Homo sapiens: one gene and its partners. The protein of the gene in region 3 interacts with the protein of the main gene of each other region in a biochemical or structural test. Each region holds a gene or a part of one and is shown on either strand. Other genes may lie near its edges.

Region 1 (5,078 bases), on a different chromosome or scaffold from region 3:
GTGAGCTGGGATTGTGCCCCTGCACTCCAACCTGAGTGACAGAGTGAGACTTTGTCCCCCGCCTCAGAAAAAAGGTTGGGGGGAATCTCAATTTTATCTGTAATGTTTTCTTTTTTTAGTACATTCCGTATATTAATATTTGTTAAGTTTGGGTAGTATTTACTACACCACTACTACATTTTTTTTTTTTTTGAGACTGTGTCTTGCCCTGTCACCCAGGCTGGAGTACAGTGGCGCCATCTTGGCTCACTGCAAGCTCTGCCTCCCGGGTTCTCGCCATTCTCCTGCCTCAGCCTCCTGAGTAGCTGGGACTACAGGCGCCCACCACCACGCCCAGCTAATTTTTTTTGTATTTTTAGTAGAGACGGGGTTTCACCGTGTTAGCCAGGATGGTCTCGATCTCCTGACCTGTGATCCGCCCGCCTCGGCCTCCCAAAGTGCTGGGAATACAGGCGTGAGCCACCGCGCCCGGCCAACATTTTTATTTTTAAACACTACCCATGCTACTACAGATTTGTGATACTATATGGGTCAGATCTTCCAAATAACTGGTAATAATTTTTATTAAGTTTTCCCTAATGCATTTTCAATTCTACATTTCAAGAGTATTGAACTTTTCTCACTTTTGCACTCTAATCAGAAAAACCAGAATTAAATTTTTATTTTAAAATACATTTAATAAAAATAACCCATAGTTTTACATATTTTACATGTGTAGAATATTTACAAACTCACTTCTACAGCATTTACTTAATGTTTACTATTTTTCCATTATTTGCCTTTTTGGCTATTTCCCTCAGTAGTAAAATGTTGTCCAGTGTTCTCTTTAAAAAATTAGTTTCTTGGGCAATCCTCCTAGGAAGCAAAAAGAACAAGAAAAAAAAAAGTTGTTCACATTTAACAAAGTTCACATTCTCATAGCAATTTTAACCAGTCACTGCATTCCAACTACATTATTTCACTGACACATTTTTTCCAGTAGCACTTGTTAAACATTTAGCATGTAGTTTACAGAAGGAATTTATGAAGGGAACAAGGTACACATACATAGTTCCCATAATTCTGAGGTATACACAAAAGCTGCCGAAGTATTCACAATGAAAGTAAACATACCTAAAACGGCACAGTCTCTCTACTTTATACAATTAAATTTATAAAAATTAAATAGCTAGCAAGCTACATTTCTTTGCTGTTGTTCAGTCGCTAGCCATACACGAGCTATTTGGAGTTTTCTAAATTCATTTAATTTCTTTTAAAAGTGGGAATCTTACCTTGTTCTAAGGCCTCTGTTCTTTTCCTTTTTATTGCCAAAGCTGGATTTGATTGCTCCTTTAAGGTTTCCACTGGACAGTTTGGTCTTGGCAGCTGACATCCAGGTGTTGGCCCTGGCCGATTACTGAAATACTTCATTTTCAGTGCCTTTTAAAAGAAAAGATACCAAAAGTAAGGTAGGTGAGTATCTGAAATGTGTTAAGGAAAATCTTACCTTCAAGATTATAGGGAGCATTAAAAATACTATGTGAATGCCCTCATTCCCAACAAAACAAAATTAATGTCAAGTATTTGCAAATGGAAATTACTACAAATAAATACCTAGGATCCTAAGATTGGCTGATAATTCCATTAAAAGACTGGCCGGGCACAGTAGCTCATGCCTGTAATCCCAGCACCTTGGGAGGCTGAGGCGGGTGGATCACATGAGGTCAGAAGTTCGAGATCAGCTTGGCCAACGTGGCGAAACTCCATCTCTACTAAAAATACAAAAATAAGCTGGGCGTGGTGGTGCATGTCTGTAGTCCCCACTACTCGGGAGGCTGAGGTAGGAGAATCGCTTGAACCCAGAGGCAGAGGTTGCAGTGAGCCGAGATCGCACCACTGCACTCCAGCCTGGGCGACAGAGCAAGGCTCCGTATCAAAAAAAGAAAAGAAAAAAAGACTCCCTTCTAATTTTTCCATAATTAAATAGCCTATACAGGCTGAATATATCTTATCTAAAATGCTTGGGACCAGAAGTGCTTCAGATTTTGGACTGTGGAATATTTGCATATACATGACGTACCTTGGGGATGGAAGCCAAGATTAAAAATGAAACTTATGTTTCATATACAGCTTATACATATAAACTGAAGGTAATTTTACACTTATTTTTTGTGGAGAATGGGGTCTTGCTATATTGGCCAGGCTTGTCTTGAACTCCTGGGCTCAAGCTATCCTCCCGCCTCCGCCTCCCTAAGAGCTAGGATTACAGGCGTGAGCCACCGCGCCTGGCTGAAGGTAATTTTATAAAATATTTTTAATTTGACAAAATTTTTAATTTTGTACATAAAACAAAGTTTTGTTAATGTCCTTATGTGTAGAATTTTCCACTTGTGGCATCACGTCATCATTCAAAAAGCTTTGGATTTTGGAGCATTTCAGATTTCGGATATTTGGATTAAGGATGCTCAACCTATACTAATTATGAGCTATCCTTAGTGAAATATTGTACATTTCCATTCTCTACATATTGAACTCTACAGTTCAAAATGCAAAGAGAGAAACTTAAAAAGAACTTACAAGTTGGCCACACTATCCATATATATTCAAATTCCAAGTCATGTAAAATATAAATTCTTAAAAAATAAGGCTTTTTAAAAAATACAGTAGGTTGGAACCAATGGATTCTAATTCAACAATCCATTGCAAATGGACAGAAATTTTACTTGGAAGGGCTTCTCCAAGATTATTTCTATTAATTACCAGGCCAATGTTCTATAATACATTTTCTCTTTTTTTCCCCCTACTATAGTGCTGTAGATACAATACATTTTCTTGACTTGGGTCCACAATTCTGATAAAAATAATTATATCCTAAATGACAAGTTTGTCAGGTCATGCTTGTCTTTTTTTTTTTTTTTGGATACAGAGTCTCACCCTGTTGCCCAGGCTGGAGTGCAGTGGCACAATCTTGGCTCACTGCAACCTCCACCTCCCGGGTTCACATGCTTGTCTATTTACATCAGCAGCATAGTGCTGTCCAGTGGCTACAATGATTTAAAATACTTCTGGCAGGGCGGGGTGGCTCATGCCTGTAATCCCAGCACTTTGGGAGGCCGAGGCAGATGGATCACCTGAGGTCAGGAGTTCGAGATCAGCCTCGATAACATGGTGAAACCCTGTCTCTACTAAAAATCCAAAAATTAGCCAGGCATGGTGGTGTGCACCTGTAATCCCAGCTACTAGGGAGGCTGAGACAGGAGAATCGCTTGTACCTGGGAGGTAGAGGTTGCAGTGAGTCAAGATCGTGCCACTGCACTCCAGCCTGGGTGACAGAGCAAGACTTCGTCTCAAAAATAAATAAATAAATACTTCCTTTAGGATAATCCTTTAAGAAAGATGAAGCCCATATAAACTTTGCAAGCATTCCTCACCACTCCCAATATTATTTGCAGTAATTTAGAGATTCCTTACTTCAACAGTTGCATTTTCATTTTTTATTTATTTACTTTTTGTAGAGATGATGTTTTGTCATGTTGCCCAGGCTGGGCTCCAACTCCTGGGCTCAAGCTATCCTTGCTCCTTCACCTCCCAAAGTGCTGGGATTACAGGTGTGAGCCGATGCACCGGCCTACAGCTGCATTTTTAAAGCATTACTTCTAAATCACAGCAGTTCTATATGCAAATTAGGCTAATTCTGGGCTAAAGATCTAAGAAAATACCTCATTCCAACTTTAATAAAGACATCCATGAAACAAAACTCACTTTAAAAACTTCATTCTATTAAAATACAACCCAAATACAACAACTAGTATTTTTCTGTTAAGTTTCAAACTATACTACCAATGAAAACAACTTTCTAGATAATTAAATGTGGTCTCAAGTTTATTATGATGGAAATAATATACATAGAAGTATGAGTGAAAAGGCAACAAATTACTTGTTTGAAATTAAAAGAGTATGTGTACACATGGACATAAAAATAATAAAGAAAAATTTTTTAAAAAAGAAATTAGGAGAATAATTCTAATGGTAAATACCCAGCATATACCTACCTACCTATCCATCTATATCTATCTATCCTTCCATCCATCCATCCATCTCCATATATATTCACATAGCACACATTGCTAAAAAGAGAAGGCTTATACAAGCAAGTGCATTAAACAATGATTTTGTAGCCTGGAACAAACCTAAAGAGAAAAAAATCTATTTTGTATGCTTAATATTACTGTACATTAATATGTTTCCATAAAGACCTGTGATCTCACTTTCATTAGTCTCTCCCTTCATGAGGTAAAATCACTGCACTGTGTTGTACAGTGCTCTGCCCTAAGTTATTCTAGGTCTTCCAAATTTTTCATGAGTTTGTTATTTCCTTTAAACAGCAGTTAGTTTCAGTTTTTGTTTTATTTCAAATATTTTTCAAGCTTTTGTAAGCATACAATTATATCTGACTATACCATTTCCTCCCCATTACCATGTTCTCAATGTGAGAATGATCAGCATGCATACCTGGATTGCATTATATAGGAAAGAAAAAATAAGCCGAACAAACTACTTTCAGCATTGCTACAAGATTTAAATGAATTTGTAAGAGCTCAACTGAAATATACCAGTTTCTTAACAAATAAAAAGCCTTGGTTTTCTTTTTCTAAGTAAAGTATTTACAAGCCAATTATGTGAAATAGACATGTATTTAAATGTCCCTAAGCAAGTGTAATAAGTGTAAACTCTCCTGTATCTCTGTGTGCATATAATTTAATCTCAGTCTTAATAGTGTTTGTAGTTTGGGGAAAAGATACAAAGTTTGTTATTTCTTAAAACAAAAACACATCTTTCCAGTATTTAAAAAATGTTAATTTTATGAAATTCTATTTTTATCAATGCTACAGTTAAGATTATTTTTATATTTCCTAGTATAAAAAAGATACACCAAAATACCTGTGTGGCCGTAATTCGAGCACATGGATTAAATAAGAATAAGCCTTGTATGAGATCTAGTAAGTCGTCTCCTGCTGCACTGAAGATGTGATGCAAAGGTATTCCAGGGAAACTCTTAAATGTCACATAATCTGGAAGACTACACATGTCCTGTAAAA
Region 2 (7,033 bases), on a different chromosome or scaffold from region 3:
CCTGTTTTCTCAAATATACAAAATATACATTTCCAGTTTTAGTTGTGGTTTTCTTGCTTTTGTTTGTTTTTGTTGTTTTTACACAGGAATAGTTAGGTCTGTCATTTGAGGGAGCCCAGGGGACCTGGAACGGGTCACACGGGCAGTGCTCAGTTCTGGTGCCTCTTCATATGCAGGGCCAGGTGGTCAGAGCGCGAGAAGCTGCGGTTGCACACCCCGCACTGGAAGGGCTTGGCGCCTGTGTGCTTCCGGTAGTGGCGGGTCAGCTCATCCGATCGCGCGAACCTCCAGTCGCAGCCTTCCCAGGTACACTTGTATGGCTTTTCACCTGTGACAACGAACAAAGGAGGTAAAGCGGCCTGCTTGTAATGCAAACATCCTAGATAACACCGGAGAAGGAATTTCAAAGAAAAAAAAAATCTTGGCCAAGCGAAAGAAGGAAAGCTCATGAATTCCATTATGAGTAAATACATATCAAAGCCACTCAAAGTAAGCTAGTTAAGAGTTATTTCTTATAACCTCCAAGTATTTTTTACCTCATAAAGAAAAAAGCATTTTGTGTACCTTTGAACAACTGAAGAATAACAATTTTAGACAAGTACAAAACGAATCAGTGCCCTTATTTTTATGTACTCCTACACACATAAATCCAGGAAATGACTAGATGAGCCTGAGTGGCTTTATCATTATTGTGCAAATACAGTTTCTATACCAACAAACCCAAATTAAATTATTATAGGACTAATGGCTGTAAGGTGGGTGAGGGAGGAAAAAATTCAGAAGCTGTTGCACGAATCACCTATACATTGAATTTCATGTACCACAACTGCTTAACCAGAAACTGGTCCTAGATGTTTCTAAATTAGCCAGACAGAAGCTTGCAGCTCATCAATCAGTTCACTTGAAAACATGGCCTCCAAAATGGACTATTAGGGCATTCACTCTTTGAGAGTCACACACACCTTCACACACCTTCCTTTTGCAGATTGAAGCAAAATAGTCTGGTACTGATAACTTCACATTGGTAAAAAAAAAAGACCATGAAACAACTGTAAAAACTGACATTTGTTGACTTGTATTTAGTTTTTCTTTGTCATGTGTTACACCCAAAATTCATTCCATAAACAATTCGCCAAGCATCTATTATAGGCCAGGAACTGTCCCAAATACTTGTGATACAATGGCTAACAAAATAAAAACAGTTGGCCTCATGGAGCTTACATGTGTAATATACATCTAAAAGTCTGAAATTGTTCAACCTACCCATTCCATTCTTTCACAGTTCTCTTCCCTTGAGTATTGAGTTGGTATGTTCCTCCCTCCCATCCTGTAATGTATATTATTCCTAATGCTCCCCAAAGCTTGCCAGCTGTTTAACTTTCAAAACCACTAAATATTCATAATGTAGTCTTAATTCTCTGTTTGTGAAGAATCCTACTGGAGATCATATATTCCAGTAGGAATAAATGCCAAAACGTTCTTTCAGTGAGCATTAACTAGCAGTTCCTACATTTATGATTTTATAATTTTCTATGAATTTTTTATAAGAATTCGTGAGATAAATTTGTATATTAAAGTATTACTGGCTTACTGCTGAGTTTTATATAGATACTTTTTCACCTCTTAAATTCCCTTAAAAAAATGTTTCCTTCTGAAAGGGAGGAACCTCAGAGTTGCTTTGAACACTTGTTTAGTTCTGACGAAACAGAAACTGCACAACCTTTCTGCCTAATTTAGCAGTATCATGTTCAGGAAGTTGTAGGATTAACCAAGTCAGTCTAAACTTTAAAAGACCCTGTCCTCATCAACTGAGATTTCTACAATTTGTGGTTAATATATTTTTGTTGTCATGATAACCACTCTGACTCTCAGACAAAGAAGAAAGTGCCAAAACAGACGACATGAAAGTGGTCCCAATTTTTTTTCCCTTGAGAGTTCACCTACATTTCCCATGGTATGGATTGCTGTGCCATACTTCCTCTCTTCTCTCCTCTGCCTCTGACCCAGACAGTTTTTGTTTTAATTCCCTTTCTGGTTCCTATCAATCCACTTTAAAAATGAACATCTCAATTCTAGAAGTTTTTTCTCCCCTCATAGTAGATTCTAACCAGAAATTTAACCTAAGACACTCAAGCCATTTACAAAACAAAGTATAAATCACGTTCTGTCACTTACAATCACATAAAATGTCTGATATATAGAAATATTTTAACACCAGTAGTAAATATAGCTATCACATTTGTAGATGTAAATTGATCACAAAAAAAATTTTTGCACAGTACTATTAGTTTTTGTTCCCTGTGAAAAATAAACCACAGAAACAAACATATTGGTTAAATACTTTACTGTCATTTAATGGAAAGAAAAAGTTATTTCTGATGTCTGAGACAAGGAAAAAAATTCCTATAGTGCTCCCAATTTTAAAAGAAATCATTCTAGTCTTTTGAATTTAATAATTAAATAGCAGAACTGAATTTTCAGAGTTTATGTAAGAAACAAGGGACACTAGACTCTTTTTGTTCACTATTTTTATTGGCTATGAAGCAATAAACTGCACCAGTATTTTTTAAAGTTTACTTTACTGATTGCTTGAAATACGGTAGCCATTAAAGTTTCTAAAACATTTGGGGTTTTGCTCTCAATTTATGCACATCTATAGAGTATTCAGCCAAGAATACTACCAGTGTCTGGAATGTTAGTTACTGGGGCCAAGTCTTACCATAAAAGTAAGGACAACTATCCCCCCACTTGGGGCAGTTTCTATGGGATTTGTTCAAGTGTCAACACCGTTCAAGTAAAACATCGTAGAGGAAACTGGTACCCAATTTCTGGCCAAACAGCAGACTTGGGCCTTTCTTCCTCAGCCAGAAACACTATGCACAGTACTTCTGGGAAACCAAACTGACTTCCTTTAAGTTATATTTCAACAGGATAGAGCTTTCAAAAGTTTAATTGGATTTTTACAGAATCTCTTTCCAATACCACCAATTTAAAATATTTAGTTAAGCTCTTTCAACATCAACTGTATTTTTAAGTTCTCATGCTGTTAACGTGAAACTTTCCAAAGGCAAAAAGAAAAAAGTGACAAGTTTGTACAGCACAGAAAACAAGCTCCCACTTTATCTCAAAGTATGTGTTTTCTCATTCTGTTTTTAAATTACAGGAGTATTTTGCTAGAATCTCTAATCTTTGAAAACTATGTTCAAGTTAAACATGCATACTATCCACGCTGATAAAGTCATTAACATACTTTACAAAAATGTTAAGCAGAAACATTACCGGTAAAAGGAAAAGGGAGCAGGCACCAGCAGCCATGGAGCACATACTCCAGAGCGAGGTACTTCTCATTATCTCGCTTCCTCACAATAACCCCGTAGAGTTAGAAGCAAAACGATGAGCTCCACATTAAGAATCCTGGTCTGCCACTTTTCCTTAATGTCTCACTTAAATCTTCCATTAGCAAACACTAATACACTCTCTTTGAACGATTTAAGGAACACATACATATTGTTCAAATTCATTTCCAGATTCTAAAGCCACTTGCGAAGGTCAGCTAAGGAATGGCTTAATGGACTCACAGCAAGCCTTGAACCCCAGACGATCTGAAACAGAGAGCACAACCTGGCAGTGCCAGCCTCTGTGGGGCCTGTGGGGTCCTGAGCACTGTTCAGGTATTGCCAATTCCCAGGTATCACCTAACGATAGCTCCTTTCCCCCAGGGTAAGTGAATTTCAGTGGGTTAGTGGAACATGTTTGTAAGCCATTTTAAAAATCCTCAGCAACAAACTGAAAATTGTCCTTTTTTTTCCCCCCTCTGAATGACTTCTGAACCTATCACAATGGAATGGGAAGTTTCTCTGCTCTGCTGAACACATTCAATAGACATACCAAGGCCTTTCCCTAAAATGTTCTACATAGATTCTTCTAACAAAAGAATAAAAATCACTGATAAAATATTTATCTTAAAATAGTTATTTTAGATAATGTTTTAAAAGTTTATTGCAGCAAATTTACACATCGGTTTCCTTCCTGGTGACTAAAAGACAACTCAATCAATATCTGATAAAGCTAAAATATCATGAGAATTAAAGTCACTGTTTATTAGTGAAGGTGTAACCTGTACTAAATGCCTTGCAAAACTCAAATAAGACTTGGTTTCTGGCCTCAAAGAACTTAAAATCTTGTATCTTGTTCTGCGAACCTAAACAATCCAAACTTTTAAAGTAGAATAAATTATTTCAACCTAATCTAAACTCTTAGAACTTAAGAGTCCTTGAAGCTCAAAATGGGCTCTTATTTCAAGAGGAAAATATTTTCATGCAATTCAATAATAATTAGATTTTTCCCATCATTTGAGACTTACGAAATTTAGTCTCTGAAATAGGCTCATATTAGATTTGCTTCTAAAAATCAAAAGGGAGAAAAATAGGAAACACTTATTAAAGAAATTCATAGGAAAATGATTTAGATATCTAAGAAAAGAGATAAAGTAGGAGGATGATTTTAGCTCACTAATTCATATTTTTACGTCTATGCCAGTAATTTTCCATCAAAAACCTTTCTATTAAAACTCATTGTCACACATTTCCTATACTTGGAACAGAAGGTCCATATCAAAGATTAGTATTATTAGCATTTGTAAATGCATCTAATTATTTACCAGATAACACCATCAATATTGTGCCCATTCAACCTAAGGAAGCTGATTGCCAAAAACAAAAACAAAAGCAACAAAAGAGAAATTCCTTTCTCTCCTCAATTTATATTTATCACTTTCTTTAAAATCCGATACCTCACTCCTTCTAGAAAGCCTCTGAACAGACCAGGAGAGATCATTTCACTTCTCTGTATCCCCATCACTGAAATTTCTGTTGAGCTATCAATTTGCACTTGCACATATACTGCTTTAGGAAGGCTTCAAATAGTTGTATTTTGCCTCCTTAACTAGCTTTTAAAGTTCCTCAAGGGCAGAGACTATCTTCTATTCCTGCTGTAATGCCACACTTTCCCTAATGCATCTTGAAAACAACTCAGTTATTCTGATTAAAGAAAAGGAGGGAAGGCATAAAAGGTTCTTGTGAGGCTGTCAGCTTTTTATTCTTCTGTGGACCCTCCTGCAGCAGGGCTTTTGCCTGGCTTTGCCCTGCCCAGGACCACTGAGAGTAATCTGGTAATACGCATTTAGGTGAGAACCATGTTTTGAGCCACTTCCAGAGAAAATAATCGAATGAGTTATTGTCCATTCTGAAGTTATACAGGGATAAACTCTGTTTAAACAAATTGTCTTAGGTAGAACTGGACTGGACTTCAGGAAAGCCAAGACATACTAGAGCCCCTAGCACTGGTCAAAGGCAGCGAGGGGACTTCTCCCAGGGCCAGAAAGCACTGATCTGCCAAACCCAGAGAGGGAATGGGTGGGATCACGATGTCAGGGGTTACACTTACAGTCTACATCCTAGCAGAGATTTGGAATCTCTGGGCTCCTAAACTACTGCTACTTCTCCTCTGGGTTCCCAGTAAACATTATGAAGACTATCCCCTGTCATTAATAGAGTTAATGAAATCAAATACCAATTCTTCCGTCTCCTGATAACGAGACAACACTCGGATTCACTTTCTTATAATGGGAGTTCGCACTGACGTTAAAGTGTCAATGAGGAATTTCACCTTTTCTTTTTGTAAGCAAAACAGAAAAATCCTCTATTTTCATTTTTTCCCAGTATGGAATGAGTACTAGATAACCTTCCCTTTAATTTGCACTTCACATGGTGACCCTGACCAGTAGGTCTCCTCCCAACTCGTAAAGGTTTACCTTTTCATAAAGTAGCCAAAAATAAATTTATTCTTCTATATAGATATTTTTAGGTAAAAGTTACCTACTGTGCACTTCTAAAACTGTAACTTATCCTTAATAAGAGTTGTTGTTTGAGATCCTTGAATATAAATAATACTGGCTAACAGACTAGGAATGCTGCTACGGAGATACTTTTACTAAAGTAGGACATTATTTCTAATCTTTCACTAGAAACGATGTAGGCCATCAAGTAAACAGCTACTACATTCTATAGAACCAAAAATATCTGCCAAATTCTTGGGTGACTGTATTATTATTTTTTAAAAACATTACTCTCTACTTTCAAGACTAATTATTTCTATCTCCACTCCAGCAATTCTATTTAGTCTATGAACAAAAGGGCAAGAAGAGATTATTCATCTTTGGATTCTCCACAAAACCAGTAAAAAATATTTGCTGAATCAAATTATACTTAACTTTTGATAAGCTTTATCATCTCTAAACAATGTTTAATCAATTTCCTATGTAAATGTTTCTCAGAAGAAAGAACAAGTCCTAGAAGCAAAGTTTAATCTTCCCAGTGAGTCATTAAAAAGAAATTGCTTCTAAGCTTTCATGCTCATAAATACCTTTCCTGGGGTCTGAACCAGCAAGTCTCTTAAGCTACTACTTTAAAAAAAAATTGTTTGAAATTATCAATACACAAAATAAATTTCAAAGCTGCAAATGAAAAAAAAATGGAAAAGAATGAAAAGAATGTTTAATAAAATCTAATACTAAAGGCTAATAAATGTGATACTTCCTCTGCAATAGTTTTCAAATAGAGACTCAAAAAACCACTGAGTCCTAAATCTCTTCCTGCAAAAAAGATTTTGCCTGTGTTATCTCTACCAATAAAACAGGTTACACATTTAACCACTATTATTTCTCGATTCACATTGTAAGATCTCCATCCATTAAGGCCCAGAGTGAAAACCTTTGTATACAGTTTTCCTAAAAAGCCTTTTACCCTTTTCCCACAGTTCCACAAAAAGAAGAGTAACTTATGTTCAGAACACTGAATGTTGCTTTTAGTAAGTACCTGCAATGAAAATATCTTTATTGTCAATATTATCGATTTTTTATTTTTTATTATTATTATTTTTTCAGATGGAGTCTTGCTCTGTTGTCCGGGCTGGAGTGTGGTGGCATGATCTTGGCTCACCACAACCTCTGCCTCCCAGGTTCAAGCAATTCTCC
Region 3 (7,033 bases):
TCCCAAAGTGCTGGGATTACAGGCGTGAGCCAGCTTGCCCGGCTGACACTGACGCTTCTTTTTAAAAGAAAACATTAACAATGACATCCAGCACATCTTTATTGCTCTGCTTGCTAACAAGCAGCACACCTGTGTTCCAGTGGTGAAATCCATGTGCTCAGCAACACAGTGCAGACTGCAGGCTTCATCACATCCCCAGCACGTGACCCATGGAAATCAGAGACTGGAGCTGCTTCCTGCCATTTCCGAGAATGAAAAGAAACAGAATTCACTAACATCTTAAAAATCCTTCTACAGTGATTTTATTATAAATATGTTCTTTTGGAATAAACAAATATTGCATTCAAGACTATGGGCAAACTTGCTCTAAAGTAACAAACGAGGAAGAAAGGAACCAGGAACCATTTAGAAGTGGAGAAAAACACAGCAAAGACACCTGCATGCCACGCTCAGCGCCTTTCTCCCAGGGAGTAACAGAAGGTTAACAGGGAACATCACATTGCCCATGAGCCCATTCTACTCAAATAAGCTTTGAGTTTGGTAATTTGCACTTGTTTTGTAAACTGAACTGCTCCTCTCCTCAGCCGCAAGAAGCAGATAGGAAGACAGTCTTCAGACCCCGAGCATCAGCAAGAACACTCTTGATTGTGTATCTGTAACTCTGTTCCAGGGCAAAACTGTTCCCTATTTGCTGGAAGTAATGTCAGAGTAATCCTTCAGCACTCCAGCCAAGTGTTCGTTATGAGTCTTAAAGCGTCGCTTTTTCTGTGAAGCAGGCTTTTTCCTTCTCTGAATAGGGGCCTAAAGGAAAAGGTAAAAACAATTAGAAACAACAGCTGCTCTGAGGGGTGGTGTGGCCAGGATGTTCTGAGCATGCCCAGATGCCAGTGGCTGAGGATGCCAGGTTCGGACCCTTCTCCTGCTCTGCCACCCAGCAGCACACATGGGGCACAGCACACGCCCTGACCAGACCCCGGGCCTTTGTTCCCCTGAGATGCAGATGCCATCGGGAATGAAGGAGCAGGCACAAAAACCTGCCAAAATGGTTCTAGGCACTAAGTCAAACAAAAGGGACGATGAAGCCCTTCAGCTCTGTCTCTGTCATCAGGTTTAAAAACGTATCCACCATTACCGATTTTAAAAAGATCTGAAGAAAATATGGCAAAATCCTGAGAAAGGAGGAGCACATGAAGGTCTGTAATATTCTCTATTCTTTTCTATATACTTGAAATATTAGCATCACATGATGAAAAAAATTAACAAATGAGACAATAATAGGAAATCATGAAGGGCTGCAATTACACTCATTTGTGGAAAGAGATTGACAATAAAGCTTCCCTTTAGGTGAGTCCTAAAAATTCACCAAACACACATGCCCACCCCACACCCCAGAAAGACACAGGTGACAAGCTATGAAGCATGACGGTGGATAAGGAAAGGGGGGAGGAGCACAGCACTGCTAACAAGGGTGCTGGTGAATCATCCCCCCGGGCTTTGTTCTTAGACTACAGATTTTATTTGCTGGTGCAAGGCAATGTAAAAGTCATCATTTAATTACTAACATCCCCTGTGAGCAGGATTTAGAGACTATACGGACAAAAATATCTGGTTCCTAGAGGACCTGAAAGTTACTATGGCAGAACCAGGCACCAGGACGGCGAGGCTCACGGAGCAGGGGAGGGCCCCGTTCAAGTCTGAAAGGTTGTGCAGATCAAGGCACAGCATCCCTTTAAGAATAGGGAGAAGGGCTTGTAGCAGCTTAGAGTGGGAGAGTGGGGAACACACAGGCCCTGGAAGGTTCCATATGGCTATACCTCAAGAGCAGGACTGCTTGGGAGGAGCTGGGTGTAGAAAGGCACTCACAGGCCTGGAGCAGCACCGAGGGCGGGTCTGCAGGCCTGCAATACCTCAGATGTGACCTGGGCTGCGGACACTGAGAAACAATGGCGGGGGAACAACTCCCAGCTCTTCAGAGGGCAGAAAGCGGAGCAGGCTAACAGTTCCCAGGGCAGGGGATTAAGCTGCTTTGCTAGAGATTACGCACCACTTTCTTTGGTCCAGATTCCTGCATGGAAGAAATACCCTGTCGCTTCAGATATTCTTCAATTTTCTCCTCGTCCATGGAATCTACAGTGACACTCCTCCACAGTTTCTGAAATTCTGTATCAAACAGACACTAGTTATTTTACAATCCATTTTTACAAACTATAGCATCTTGATCAAAATCCAGGTTTCAGTGTTATCTCCTCTGGATCCAAATGAGCACATCTGATATGTCATCATGAAACAAGTCAGGGCAGAACATCCACATGTGGGACACGGTGCAGGGAAAGGCCTGGAGACAGAACTGCACCCACACAGCCCCGACAGTGGGGCTGTTTCTTGAGGCCAGCAAATGAGGGCTGCCACAATGAAGCCGCCCTGCTTTCCTGGGCCGTCAACACCCTCCTTTAATTCCTCTATTTAGGGCTAACAGCTTATTTCCTGCTCAGCTCCCCTAAGCATGATATACTCATTCCTCTCTCATTGATAATAGAAAATAAGAAACGTGTAGGGAGACGGGAACCGAAGTTTCACATGGAAATGAGGTTATTCAACAATTTATCTGCAAAAAAGACTTTTGAAATCAAATAACCTGGTAACTGGTGACTAAGGAGGCATGAAAGGGAAAGGGGGGATGGCTGAAATAGAAACACTGTCTCACCTCCTCTCTGTAATACAAGGAGAAAGGCGACAGTCCTGCCTGCAGCTTGTCTTCAGAAACCTGTAGTCCCTCTGCCACATCACTATTTTTGCAACCAAGAGAGACCACAATTGGGAAGCATTCCAAATGAACATTATTTACATCTTACATTCTGCTCCTGAAGACAGGTTCTGATCACTGGTTTCACTTAATTATCAGAAGCTACTTTCAGACACAAAATCCTAAGACTTACACGCTCAGGAACGAAAAAAGGAAAAGCTCTCTGAGCCCCGAGGCTTCACAGAGCCTCACACTCACAACTGCCCCACGCACTGAGGGGATGCACCTTCCCTTCCTTTCTTCCCACCCCAGACCCTCACCCAGCGCCGCCCTCCTTTTCTTCCAGAGCCAAGAACTTCCCACGGTCCGTTTACAAATGATAAATGAAGTAGGCATCTGATACTGTGCTAGGCCAGATTTCTTTCCTTTTCCCCTTTTCCTTCCTTCCCCCTTTCTCTCTCATTTCAGTACACGCTGCATAAAGCAAATGATGCCCACATAGGCAGGACTCTGGTGATACCATGGAAATCGGTTTACTGCCACCTACCCTGAAGCTTTTCATTGCAGGTGACCAATGGCAAAAGTGGCAAAATCTACTACAAAGAATTCAACCTGAGCATAAAGTTATTTAAATCCAAAATGTCTCTAAATAAGATTTTTTAATTTCCATAGATACATTAGGGGTTCTTTCTACTACACACCCACTGAACGTTCATCTGCACACATTATGGACATGACCTAACTGATAACAACTGTGTGCATGATTGTCTCGGCCTCTCTAAGCTCCTTGAGAGCAGGGAGCTCTATTTCCATCTTGTTTCCATGATAGTCGGCGTATTTCCATCTCGTTTCCATGACAGTCGGCACTGTACCTAGCACATGACAGGTCCTCAGTGATTTGACTACTGAATGTATGAAACACCATCACTGTCTACTACAGCCTAGACAAGACTTCAACGATTTGACTACCGAATGTATGAAATACCATCATTGTCTACTACACCCTAGACAAGACAGACTGTTTTCTTTTTTTAAAATTTATTTATTTTTGAGACAGGGTCTAGTTCTGTTGCCCAAACTGGAAAGCAGTGGCGCAATCTCAGCTCACTGTAACCTCCACCTCCTGGGCTTAAGCAATCCTCCCACCTCAGCCTCCTGAGGAGCTGGGACCAAGGTACACACCACCATGCCCAGCTAAGTTGTTTCTGGGGGGGTGGGGGGTTGTGTAGAGATGAGGTTTTACCATGTTGCCTAGGCTGGGCTCAAACTCCTGAGCTCAGGCAATCCATCTGCCTTGGCCTCCCGAAGTGCTGGGATTACAGGTGTCGAGCCACCATGTCTGGCCTATATTTTTCTTTTTACATTTTTTAGACTTTTAAAAAATAATTTTACACTAACAAAAGGGTTACAAAATGAGTACACAGAGTTCCTATATGCCCTTTATCCAGCTTCCCCTAATGTTAACACCTTACATAACTGTATAATTATTGAAACTAACATGGACATATTACTATTAATTCATCAACAGGCCTTACTGAAACTTCACAAGTTTGAAGTGAAACTTCAACTTCACCGATGCTCTTTTCTTGGCCCAGGATCCTGCCTGTCACATCTCTTTGGTCTCCTCCATTCTCTAAGTGTGGCCAGTCTTTGTTTCCCCACTGGTCAGTTGTTTTACAGAAACTTCCATTTGGGTTTGTCTAGTATTTCCTCATTACTAGATTGAGGTTATGCAATTCTGGCAAGAACAACACAGTAACGAGCTTGTGCCCTTCTTGGGGCACAGTAGCAAGCTACATAGTGTCAACATGGACCCGGTAAACGCTGACCATCAGGCAAGGTGTTATCTCTCAGGTTTCTCTGTCATGAAGCTATCAGTTTTTCCTTTGTAGTTAATAATTAATGGAGAGATATTTTCAGACTATATAAATACCGTTTCTCATATTATCACTAATTTTATAATAGCATCCATTGGTAGTGCTTACCTACAAAAATGACTACTTGTAAGTAACTACTGACAAATTATTTCCATCATTCCTTCCATATGTACTAATTAGAATTCTACTATAATAGGCTGGGCACGGTGGCTCATGCCTGTAATCCCAGCACTTTGGGAGGCCGAGGAGGGTGGATCATTCAAGGTCAGGAGTTCAAGACCAGCCTGGCCAACATGGTGAAACTGTGTCTCTACTAAAAATACAAAAATTAGCTGGGCATGGCAGTGGGTACCTGTAATCCCAGCTACTCAGAAGGCTGAGGCAGGAAAATCACTTGAACCTGGGAGGCGGAGGGTGCAGTGAGCTGAGACTGTGCCACTGTACTCCAGCCTGGGTAACACAGCGAGACTCCATCTCAAAAAACAAAACATAACAAAAAACACAAAGAGCTGCTCTTCCTTCAGTTCACTGTTTGTTTGTTGAGACAGGGTCTCACTTTGTCACCTAGGCTGGAGTGCAGTGGCACAATCTTGGCTCACTGAAGCCTCAACTTCCTGGGCTCAATCAATCTTCCTCCCTCAGCCTCCCAAGTGGCTGGGACTACAGGCACATACCACCACACCAGGCTAACTTTTGTATTTTTAGTAGAGACAGGGTTTCATCATGTTGCCAAGGCTGGTCTCGAACGTCTAGACTCAAGCGATCCACCTGCCTTGGCCTCCCAAAGTACTGGGATTACCAGCCTGAGCCACTGTGCCCAACCTCCAACTTGTTTTTCAATTATTTAATTTAGCAGACTCATGGATATTACTGTACAGATTTATATCTACATATTTATTACACAGATAATCCATGACGATCAGTATTTATTTATTTATTTATTTTATTTATTTATTTTATTTATTTTGAGATGGAGTCTCGCACTGTCACCCAGGCTGGAGTGCAGTGGTGCGATCTCGGCTCACTGCAAGCTCCACCTCCCGGGTTCACGCCATTCTCCTGTCTCAGCCTCCCGAGTAGCTGGGACTACAGGCGCCAGCCACCACGCCCAGTTAACTTTTTGTATTTTTTAGTAGAGACAGGGTTTCACCGTGTTATCCAGGATGGTCTCGATCTCCTGATCTTGTGATCTGCCCGCCTCAGCCTCCCAAAGTGCTGGGATTACAGGCGTGAGCCACCGTGCCCAGCCGACGATCAGTATTTATTTTGTGGTTCAAACATCCCAGCTCTAATCACTAAGATTTCCTTCATGTTGGTTCCTATGTCCCTGACTTGCTTCCCTTTTTTTTTTTTTCCTCCAGTTTTTCTTCTTTCTCTCACTTTCTGGCGGTACTAAAAGATGTTCCAGGCTCATCTTGTATTTCCCCTCATTTGGAATCAATGATTTCTTCAAGGATTCCTGACTTGTTTTATTATAGAATGGTATTTAAAAACCAAGATCTACATATTTTGGGTTTTTAAAAATAGCAATCTCTTTTTTGAAAACAAAATGATCAAGGGACATCAAATTTAAAGGCAGACACTTTATTATGGCAGAAGACAGCCAAGTATCATGAAAGTCAGGCACACTCTAAACCGTAAGGGTAAATAAAATCAGAACTGATTTAGAAATCTACTCTCTTAGCAGAAAAGAGGAGAAAACAGACTAGAATTTAAAAGCTCAGATTTGATCCTTTCATTTCAAAAGACCCTTCCTTGTCCCACATGAGTTAAGAATAAAAAACTGTGTAACTGCCATAGAAGGGAAGAAAATGAGCCAACTTACCAATGAGGCTTTGCTTAAAATTCCCAAATAACGCACTCACATTTTGTCTGTGCTTAGCCCTTTCCCGTAAATGCAAAAGTAGCACAACAGTGTGGTGCAGGCCTCAGAGCCAGATGGCCTGGCTGTGACCTCAGTTACCACATTTCCTGCACAAAGTGGTGCAAACATCTTAATTTTTCTGCCTCCATTTCTTCATCTGTAAAGTGAGGATAATAATAATACCTGCCTCGCCGAGCGTGGTGGCTCTGTAATCCAAGCACTTTAGGAGGCCAAGGCAGGCGGATCACCTGAGGTCGGGAGTTCGAGACCAGCCTGACCAACATGGAGAAACCCCATCTCTATTAAAAATACAAAATTAGCCAGGCGTGGTGGCACATGCCTGTAGTCCCAGCTACTTGGGAGGCTGAGGAAGGAGAATCGCTTGAGTCCGGAAGGCAGAGGTTGCGGTGAGCCGAGATCACGCCATTGCACTCCAGCCTGGGCAACAAGAGCGAAACTCCGTCTCAATAATAATAATAACGATAATAGTAATAATAATACCTGCCTCATAGAATAGTGAGGATTAGAGGAGTTAATAAAGCACCGAAA

Evidence for each region.
Region 1: of the proteins of GTF2E2 (region 3) and CDK7, one has a biochemical effect on the other in vitro, tested with the Homo sapiens proteins (one study listed by BioGRID).
Region 2: the proteins of GTF2E2 (region 3) and KLF5 form a complex in vitro, tested with the Homo sapiens proteins (one study listed by BioGRID).

The regions. Positions count from the first base shown.
Region 1 is NC_000005.10:69,272,884-69,277,961, reverse strand, and holds the end of CDK7 (cyclin-dependent kinase 7), read right to left. Parts: intron 5,071-5,078; coding exon 4,921-5,070; exon of another isoform or gene 4,524-4,920; coding exon of another isoform or gene 4,483-4,523; intron 1,420-4,482; coding exon 1,272-1,419; intron 856-1,271; coding exon 827-855; 3' UTR 532-826; downstream 1-531. UniProt on the Homo sapiens protein: Serine/threonine kinase involved in cell cycle control and in RNA polymerase II-mediated RNA transcription. Cyclin-dependent kinases (CDKs) are activated by the binding to a cyclin and mediate the progression through the cell cycle.
Region 2 is NC_000013.11:73,069,003-73,076,035, reverse strand, and holds part of KLF5 (Krueppel-like factor 5), read right to left. Parts: intron 329-7,033; coding exon 150-328; 3' UTR 1-149. UniProt on the Homo sapiens protein: Transcription factor that binds to GC box promoter elements. Activates the transcription of these genes.
Region 3 is NC_000008.11:30,578,237-30,585,269, forward strand, and holds the end of GTF2E2 (transcription initiation factor IIE subunit beta), read right to left. Parts: intron 6,923-7,033; coding exon of another isoform or gene 6,903-6,922; exon of another isoform or gene 6,189-6,902; intron 2,161-6,188; coding exon 2,045-2,160; intron 802-2,044; coding exon 685-801; 3' UTR 82-684; downstream 1-81. UniProt on the Homo sapiens protein: Recruits TFIIH to the initiation complex and stimulates the RNA polymerase II C-terminal domain kinase and DNA-dependent ATPase activities of TFIIH. Both TFIIH and TFIIE are required for promoter clearance by RNA polymerase.